3 linked regions of the Homo sapiens genome follow. The protein of the gene in region 3 purifies or fractionates together with the protein of the main gene of each other region. This does not show direct contact. Each region holds a gene or a part of one and is shown on either strand. Other genes may lie near its edges.

Evidence for each region.
Region 1: the proteins of AARSD1 (region 3) and HECTD1 purify together in Homo sapiens (affinity purification with mass spectrometry; 3 studies listed by BioGRID, with this or other methods). This does not show direct contact.
Region 2: the proteins of AARSD1 (region 3) and TAB1 purify together in Homo sapiens (affinity purification with mass spectrometry, with the first as the bait; 2 studies listed by BioGRID). This does not show direct contact.

The regions. Positions count from the first base shown.
Region 1 is NC_000014.9:31,110,158-31,113,811, forward strand, and holds part of HECTD1 (E3 ubiquitin-protein ligase HECTD1), read right to left. Parts: intron 3,328-3,654; coding exon 3,120-3,327; intron 3,033-3,119; coding exon 2,947-3,032; intron 2,387-2,946; coding exon 2,259-2,386; intron 1-2,258. UniProt on the Homo sapiens protein: E3 ubiquitin-protein ligase which accepts ubiquitin from an E2 ubiquitin-conjugating enzyme in the form of a thioester and then directly transfers the ubiquitin to targeted substrates.
Region 2 is NC_000022.11:39,416,780-39,420,433, reverse strand, and holds part of TAB1 (TGF-beta-activated kinase 1 and MAP3K7-binding protein 1), read right to left. Parts: intron 3,644-3,654; coding exon 3,557-3,643; intron 2,724-3,556; coding exon 2,585-2,723; intron 1,703-2,584; coding exon 1,589-1,702; intron 916-1,588; coding exon 804-915; intron 1-803. UniProt on the Homo sapiens protein: Key adapter protein that plays an essential role in JNK and NF-kappa-B activation and proinflammatory cytokines production in response to stimulation with TLRs and cytokines.
Region 3 is NC_000017.11:42,952,138-42,954,505, reverse strand, and holds part of AARSD1 (alanyl-tRNA editing protein Aarsd1), read left to right. Parts: intron 1-727; coding exon 728-782; intron 783-2,368. Other genes in the region: PTGES3L-AARSD1 protein, read left to right, coding at 728-782. UniProt on the Homo sapiens protein: Functions in trans to edit the amino acid moiety from incorrectly charged tRNA(Ala).

The sequences.
Region 1 (3,654 bases), on a different chromosome or scaffold from region 3:
CGCCCAGCTAATTTTTGTATTTTTAGTAGAGATGGGGGTTCTGCCATGTTGCCCAGGCTGGTCTTGAATTTCTGGCCTTAACTGATCCACCCGCCTCAGCCTCCCAAAGTGCTATGATTACAGGCATGAGCCGCCACACCCGGCCACATTTTCTTTTTTTTAATAACAATCCATTTATGGTGGGAGGAAGAACCGACAATTAGGAATAAGAAGCTGAAGGTTCTACTCTCATGTGTGCTACTATTTTCTCATGATCTTAGGCAAATCAGCTAAGTACGTGCAGAATCAATTTCCTCATTTATAAAACAAATTATAATCAATGCCAGTTATCACAACATGCCTATAGTTCTATGTATATAAATGCTTTGTAAATGGCATTAAATGGTACAAAAATGTAACTATCAGGGAAGAAAACAAACAGTTTAAATTATAACTTTTTTTTTACAACTATTTTGGAAGAGTACTTAAGGTAAACAATCATTCAACAAAATATTTATTGAGCACCTACAATGAGTCTTGCTCTGTTGCCCAGGCTGGAGTGCAGTGGTGCAATCTCAGCTCACTGCAACCTCTGCCTCCCGGGTTCAAGCAAATTCTTATGCCTCAGCCTCCTAAAAAGCTGGAATTACGCCCAGCTAATTTTTGTGTTTTTTTGTAGAGATGGGGTTTTGCCACATTGGCCAGGCTGGTCTCGAACTCCTGGCCTCGAGTGATGTGTCTGCCTTGGCCTCCCAAAGTGCTGGAATTATAGGCATGGGCCACCGTGCCCAGCCTGAAAACAGAAACTTTTTAAATGCTTTTTTTTTTTTGGTAAATTACTTCTTCCATGATTAGAGGGACTATCTTCAAAGTAGTACAAATATTTCGTAAATAATATCTGACCATTTTCTAACCAATTGAGTAATTTGTTGCACAATAAGCCATCTCACATCTTTCAGCAAGAAATACATTAAATTTGAATAGTAAAGACATTACACAATTAGGCTTAGGACAAAATTAAAATTTGCCTGAAGTATTTCTTTGGGGGAGAGGACACCACACTTCTACTCAAGGAAGAGAAACATTTTTACAGTCCAGAGGTCTTTTATTTTTATCTTTATTTTTTATTTTTTTGAGATGGAGTCTCGCTCTGTCGCCCAGGCTGGAGTGCAGTGGCACAATCTCTACTCACTGCAAGCTCCACTTCCCAGGTTCACGCCATTCTCCTGCCTCAGCCTCCCAAGTAGCTGAGACTACAGGTGCCCACCACCACACACAGCTAACTTTTTGTATTTTTAGTAGAGATGGGGTTTCACCACGTTAGCCAGGATGGTCTCGATCTCCTAACCTCATGATCTGCCCGCCTCGGCCTCCCAAAGTGCTGGGATTACAGGTGTGAGCCACCGCGCCTGGCTATTTTTTTTAAACACTATTATGCATGAATTCACAGAGAAGAGGTTCCAGCAGCTCAGACTTCTTTCCCTTGGTTTTCACACAGCGCGCTTCTCTGGGTGGAACAGGCTGGCACTTCAGCTAAATGCAGGTACCTTTCTCTTTGGCTTCCTTCTTTTTCTGATCATTTTCCTTCATGTGTTTCAGGAAGCTATCTCGGCTCTTAGAGTGCTTAATGTGCTCAATATGCACATTAATTCTCTTGGTAAGAATCTTGCCCTTGTTTGTTTACAACAATGCCATTAGCCACGCGTGGTGGCGTGCACCTGTAATCCCAGCCACTCAGTGGGGCTGAGGCAGGAGAATCGCTTGAACCTGGGAGGCGGAGGTTGCAGTGAGCCGAGATCACACCACTGCACTCCTGCCTGGGCGACAGAGCGAGACTCTGTCTCAAAAAAACAAAAACAAAAACAAAAACAAAAAAACAGCAATGCCAACAGCCTGCTGGGTAACACTGTAGACTCTTCCAGTTTAGCCACGGTAACACTTGTGGGGCATTCCTTTTTGAACAGTACCCATTCCCTTAATGTCTACAGTATCACCTCTCTTTTAGATTTGCATATACGTGGCCAAAGGAACAACTCCATGTTTTCTAAAAGACCTAGAAAACATCTATCGGGTATCTCTCCTCCTTTCCTTTGGATTAGTCATTTTGGCGAATTACTAGAAGATTGGTAGTTCAGGCCAAAAGGCAATGCTGACTATTCTTTATAAGAATACAAGATAATATATTCCCTCTATCAGTCTTGACAGTATAGTTGTACATTTTCAACTTACATAACATAAAAGCATACTTATTCTAAAAACATAAAAAAAAGGCTTCTTACCTTGAGGCGCCAAATGCTGTACATGTGAAATAAAGCTGTCTAGTTTCAAATGGTATTAGAAAAGGACATTTGCTGGTTAATTGTTCACACCAGTCTGGCAGAGCCCCACTTGCCAGTGCCAATGGTTCCTGCGAATTAACAAATAATAATGTCTTAGTGCTATAAGGCATTCATGCATGCATGCATTCATTCATTCGTTCATTTTTTTTTTTGAGACAGAGTCTCACTCTGTTGCCCAGGCTGGTGTGCAGTGGTACGATCTCGGCTCACTGCAGCCTCTGCCTCCTGGGTTCAAGCGATTCTCCTGCCCTAGCCACCCAAGTAGCTGGGATTATAGGCATGTGCCACCGTGCCCAGCTAATTTTTGTATTTTTAGTAGAGACTGGGTTTCGCCATATTGGCCAGGCTGGTCTCGAACTCCTAGCCTCTAACGATACACCCACCTTGGCCCCCAAAATGCTGGAATTACAGGCATGAGCCACCACACCTGACCCTATAAGGCAATTATTAAAAATTACCAAGTCAATTATAAACCTGTAATTAGGAAATAAATGCAAAGGACCATATAGCTCAAATTACCAATCAGAGGGAAGGGAAAGATGGTGAGAGGTAGAAAAGAAAGTAAAGGGAATATTAGGAAAAGTCCAACAGTAATAGAATGAAGAGTTCAGCTGTCTGATTTTATTACCTCAATCTGCTGTAATATTTTTGTTGTAATTTTTTTGCTAGTGAATTCATCTGGTGGAAAAGTAAACTGAGGCTGTTCATCACCATCTATAAAATTAATTAATAAAATTAATAAAAATATAAACTGACTTGCTTTAAAACTGCTATAGAAATGAAACAAGGCTTCTTACAGACCTTCCTGGGATATTCTTGAATAAGGGTCACTTGCAACTATATATAGAATACGCAGAAGCTGAAGGACATCTTCTACTCCACAAGAGTTCTGTCCATTGCCTGCTTTGGCCTGAGGTTGTTCTTTTGTTAAATTAAGAATATCACTACTTTGAAGAGTAGAAATGGCCCCCTGGTTTAACCCAGACTTTGTTCCATGCTCACAAAAATCCTATAGAAACAATTAGAAAAACTGGCCATTAATCACATTTTCAAGAAAAACAGTGTATCATTGTATCAATACCACTATGAAAGGGTTGGAATTTTTTAAAGTGCCTTCTTTTTAAATAAAAACATAACACAAGACATAAATCAAGGCATTCTAAACCATTAAAATTCCCAAATAAAATATAACCACTCTAAGCCATGGTCAAAGTCTGCATTCAGATCCAATGCTACCAGCCATATTTGAAATTTTAGAATTTGTGCATTAACAGTGTTAATTCAACCTCATTTTTAAAATTATGTCTCAATGAACTGCTGTTCCTTAAGAAGCTTC
Region 2 (3,654 bases), on a different chromosome or scaffold from region 3:
CATCAGGCAAGTGGACGCGCCTATCTCCCCAACCAACACTTCACATACAGGTTACCTGACGGTTAAGGACACATATTCCAAATTCAGGCTGCCTGTGTTCAAGCCCCATGACCAGGGTGGGCTGCCTGATGTCTCCATGCCTCAGTTTCCTCTTATGAAAATGCCTCTGGGGTGATGGCAGTGACTGCCTCAGGGGGCCTGAGTAGGGAATGCATAAAAGAAGGTACATCCAGAGCTCTGCACGGGCTTGGCCGTGTGATGATGACTGCCCATTCTGCTGCCATGAGCGCTGGGGTGATGTCCAGAGGAGGTGTCCTCAGAGGGAAATACACAATTCATCTCACACCTCTGCTGCAGCCATGGGCAGCACCGACCAACAGGCCTGGTCTGTCCATCCCATGCCAACTCTGGCTTCGCCTGCCTCCCTTGTGGCACTAGTTGCTGCCCTCAGCTTTGGCCCAGCTCAACTCCACCCCTTGTTTCTACAGTACCCAACTCCTGGCCTGCTGGGCCTAACCTGCCCCAAACCAACCTCTCTGGGAGGAAGAAAGAGTTTGCCTGGGCTCTGAACTACTTTGACTGCACATGTGTCACTGGGGCCTACAGTCTGCGTCTGCCCCAGGCCTTCTGGACCTTTTTTTTTTTTTGAGACAGGGTCTTGCTCTGTTGCCCAGGCTGGAGTGCAGTGGCATGATCACGGCTCACTGCAGCCTCGACCTCCCAGCACAATCAATCCTCCCATCTTGGCCTCCCTAGGACCTTCTGTTCTTTCAAGCACAGGGGACAGCTGGGCTGGCACCTACCTGAGAAGGTCAATGTCCGTGTAGCCATATTTAACCTTGTAATCCCCGATCCGCCGGGTGCTCTCCTGCCCACAGATGATCCCCACCTGCTTGATCTTTCCAGCATCCAAGCCTACGGAGGGAAACAGTGCAACAATCCTGCTTCTTGTTCACAAAGAGGAACAAAAAGAAGGGGACAGAGACACAGTCATGGGAAGAAGGCAATAAGGACCCACTGAATAGGAAATGAAGACAACACCAGGGCACCTGGGAGAGCAGCTGACCCAAAGTCCCTGGTGTCCTCAGTCCCCACGCCCATCACGACACACCTCACTCAGAGCCCGTCCTCCAGGCACCACCTGGCACGGAGCAGCTTGCCTGCCGTCTCCCTGCCCATCCCGTGTGCCCCACATCTGCCTGGAGCTCACTGGGAAGGGAAGGAGCAGCTCAGCAGCAGCTGGGCTCCCTGGACTTCTTTGGCCTCTTTCAGTCTCCACCAATAACAGTAAGTGTCTTCTGTGTGCCAGGCACTCCAGGAAGCATTTCACATGCACTAACTGAATCCTCCTAGCATCCCGAGGTAGGTTACTATTATCCTCATTACACAGCGGGGGATCTGAGGCACAGAAAACTTAAGTTCCAATCACCAACCAGTAAGCGGCAGTGCTGGGAATGAACCCCAGGCAGGCTGGCTGGGGAGCCCAAGATCACAGCCCCTCTACCACACGCCTCTCTACCCCACCACCAAAGGCAGGCGAAGGGTGAGCCCATGGGGATCAGCTTCCGCTCCCACTCTCCCCACTCACCCAGCTGCGAAAGACGGAAGAGCTCATCCTCGTTCTCTGTGGTGTGGTCCACGTTCAGCTGTGTCACCTGCAACCCATCCACTGTCGATTTGCATAAAAGTGCACGGTTTGTACCTGTGGCAGAATGTGAACAGCTAAGCAAAGACTACACACAGAGAGAAATAGGGCATACCGGGAAGGCAGAGAGGGAAAAGGCAGGCATTTCACACATGGAAATACCTGAAATGGGCAAAACAGGCTCAGACCAACGGGGTGAGTCACCAGTTAGGGACAGCTGGTGATACGAAAGAATTGGGTTTAACTTTTTCAGTGTAATCATAGGATTATGATCTTAATAAAACAGACCTCTTCTCTAGAGATACAGACTGAAATATTTACAGATAACATGATACAGTGTCTGGCATTTGCTTCAAAATAGAGAACGTGGGGACAAAGAAGGCTGGCCACAGTTGATAACTGCTGGGATTGGGGATGGGCGCATGAATGTTCATTAAATATCAGTCACTCTATTGTTCTATATTGTGGAAAATTTTCCACTGGAGTATTAAAAAAAGGCAGCATCATCAGAAGGGTCTCTACAGAGTCCTTTCTACTGAAACCTGCACCTGTCTGGTCTTCTCACAAACCCCAATGTCCCTGTCACCTAGCCCCATCTCGCAGCTGTTCATGGGGATACTGGTTGGTTATTCATGGCCAGGTAACCTCTTCCAGAAGCAGCGGCCCCCAAGGCCACCCAGAATGGGATACGACTCGTCCAGAATGAGTTAAGAAGCAGAATAGGGACTAAAGGCCAGGACACCTGTCTCCCATCCCGTCCTTTCTCCCTTCCAGTTGGGACTGAGGCGTCACTGTGGAGAGGGACATACCCAACGGTCTCAGGAGACCCTGGGTTTAAAGTGCGTGAAGTGTCTGGAAAGCAGATTGTCAAATAATGCACCGACCCCTGTGGCTGACCTCTCCCCAGTCCTCCCTGCCCTGGGACAGGAGGGGGCTCACCGACATTGGCGACGTAGAGCTTGTTGTTGAGAAGGACCGCCACAACGGCCATGGCCCCTCCCGAAATTTCCCTCTCTAACGTCTTGAGTCTCTCAAGGATCTTCTGATACTGAGGAGGCAGCTGGTGCTGAGGGACTCCCTACAACCATCAACAGAGGGTCAGGGCAGGACAGAACTCTGGACCATCTTCCTAGCCCTCTCCACTCCCTTTACTCTTTTTTTTTTTTTTGAGATGGAGTCTCGCTGTGTCCCCCAGGCTACAGTGCAGTGGCATGATCTCGGCTCACTACAAGCTCCGCCTCCCAGGTTCACACCATTCTCCTGCTTCAGCCTCGAGAGTAGCTGGGACTACAAGGCGCCCACCACCACGCCCAGCTAATTTTTTGTATTTTTAGTAGAGACGGGGTTTCACCATGTTAGCCAGGATGGTCTTGATCTCCTGACCTTGTGATCCGCCCGCCTCGGCCTCCCAAGGTGCTGGGATTACAGGCGTGAGCCACCATGCCCGGCCTCCCTTTGCTCTTAAGAGCAAAGATCCGAGGGCCCGGGGGACAGACAGACAGATGGTCCATGGCACAGCCAAGATGAAGCCTTCGCTACAGCTCCAGGCTAAGGTTCTTCCAGAAAGCTGGAGATGACCGAACTCACAGCACAGAGGTAAGCGCTGCAGGTGGCAGTAGGCGATGTGAGCAGGTGGTTGACAAGGGCGGGGACCCATTCAGGACGAAGGACTGGGAAAAGCCCTTCCTCATGTCCACCACTGCCCAGACACTGCTGAGCTTTAGCATGCAGCTGCCCACAGCAGAGCAGCGAGGTCCCTCACCTGTGGCCACACACCAGTGTCACCCATCAGGAACTGCTCCCTAACGCCTGTTGCTCTGGCCCAGTAATGTCAAGAAAGTAGATGAGTCCATGCTCCTTGCAAAGCTGGGCCTGGACTTGACTCCCCTGGGTGTCGGCTGGGGAAATTACCTCTGGCAATTGCGACTGGAGGCTTGCCTTCTCAGCCAAGGCGTCGTCAATGGACTCCAGGAAGCTCCTCTCCACCACATCGAAGGCCTAGGGGGACA
Region 3 (2,368 bases):
TGGAGATCACGCCACAGCACTCCGGCCTGGACCAACAGAGTGAGACCCCATCTCAAAAATATAAAAAAAAAAAGAAATATGTTACATACCAGGCCTCCTGGGTTTGATATTAACATATTTACTGTAACTCTGTATCTTTTGTTTTTTGTGTTTTTTTTGAGATGGAGTCTTAGTGTGTCTGGAGTGCAGTGGCATGATCTCGGCTCAGTGTAACCTGTGCCTCCTGGGTCCAAGCGGTTCTCGTGCTTCAGCCTCCCGAGTAGCTGGGGGATCACAGGCATGTGCCACCACACCAGGCTAACTTTTGTATTTTTGGTAGAGCTGGGGTTTCCCCATGTTGGCCAGGCTGGTTTTGAACTCCTGACCTCAAGCAATCTGCCCACCTTGGCCTCCCAAAGTGCTGAGATTACAGGTGTGAGCCACTGTGTCCAGCCTGTATCTTTCTTTAGGACTGTCCCCTACCTCCTTTACTCTCTAACAGATTTCTGCTTATCCTGGTGAATCCTATTTAAGGGAGATGGAAACAAACCTGGAGGTTGATTACAAACTGCAGAGGCTGAGAAGGGCAGCTTGCTGGCTTTCAGCCAGTACTCTCTCTTGGCTAAGGGATATGGGACTTTATGTGTACATAGGCAGCAAGGCCAGCCTCAGAAGGAGGGGCCAGGCTTCCTGCAGTTTCACAGCCACCACTCCAACCTGGGTCTCATGTCTGTGTCCTTTGTTGTAGGAAGGAGGGTGATTCAGAGTTCATGAATATCATTGCCAATGAGATTGGGTCAGAGGTAAGAGGAGCATGAGATTCTCTACCCCGGCCTGGATAGAGACCTAGGGAGACATAAGTGAGGGGCGCTAGTTTAGCCAAAGTCCCTCCACATGAACACATGAGGAGGAGGAAATAGCCATTCATTCAATACTGTTTTCTTAGTACTAGCTATATGCCAAGCTCTGTTTTAGGTGTTGAGCTAGATCTATGTTATTGCTCTCTCTGGGGCTGTGATGTTTATTAGCTTCTGAGCTCCTTTCATCAGAGCTCTAGCTCCTCAAAGCCATTCAGGTTTATGTGTGCTGGGGATCCAATATTAGAAATATATCAGTGGGCTGGTCGCGGTGGCTCACGCATGTAATCCCAGCACTTTGGGAGGCCAAGGTGGGTGGATCACTTAAGATCAGGAGACCAGCCTAGCCAACATGGTGAAACCCCATCTCTACTAAAAATAGAAAAATCAGGCCAGGCATGGTGGCTCACGCCTGTAATTCCAGCACTTTGGGAGGCTGAGGCGGGTGGATTGCCTCAGCTCAGGAGTTCGAGACCACCCTGGGCAACATGGTAAAACCCTATCTCTACTAAAATACAAAAAATTAGCTAGGCGTGGTGGCATGCGCCTGTAATCCCAGCTACTCGGGAGGCTGAGGCATGAGAATCTCTTGAGCCTGGTAGGCAGAGGTTGCAGTGAGCTGAGATTGTGCCACAGCACTCTAGCATGGGCTACAGAGTGAGATTCTGTCTCAAAACAGAAGACAAAAATTTGCTGGGTGTGGTGGCAGGTGCCTGTAGACCCAGCTACTTGGGAGGTTGAGGCAGGAGAATTGCTTGAACCCTGGAGGCTGAGGTTGCAGTGAGCCGAGATTGCGCCACTGCACTCCAGCCTGGGCAACACAGACTGTCTCCAAAAAAAAAAAAAAAAAGTAAATACAGGAGTGGGCAAGCCCCTTTGAAAGCCATCCCCGTCCATTTTCCTCTTCCTCTGGCTTTACTTACTCTTCCCACTCCTGATGGTCTCTAGCCTAGAGATTTCCAGGTCTTTTGTTTGTTTGTTTGTTTGTTTGTTTTTTTCAGAGACAGAGTCTTGCTCTGTCACCCAGGCTGGAGTACAGTGGCGTGATTATGGCTCACTGCAGTCTTGAACTCCTGGGCTCAAGCAGTCCTCCCACGTCAGCCTCCTGAGTAGTTGGGACTGCAAGCATGAGCCACCATGCCCCACTATCTCTTTTGTATTTACTCCAGAACCCTTCTTTGGAATGCCTACTGTGGGTAAAGCGTTGTGTATCTCTCTTTTCATAATTCTTCTGTATAGACAGAACTGATTCTCAAGAAGCTCATATTCTAGTCTGGGAGACAAATATGTATGTCGACATTTATAATTCAGAATGATAGAGTGATGAATGCTAGAGGTGGAGGAGCACATTACCTGAAGGATAGGGAGGTTTCAGGGGAGGGGCCCTTGAAGACTGCTTAGAGGTCATCAGACAGACAAGGGGCAGAGGCGGCCAGGCAGAGGGAAACCTGGTGGTTTAGGCAGTGGCAGGGAAAGGATGTGTGGTGGGGAAAAGTTTGCAAGAGTGAAACCATGAAAGGCATTTTCTGCTT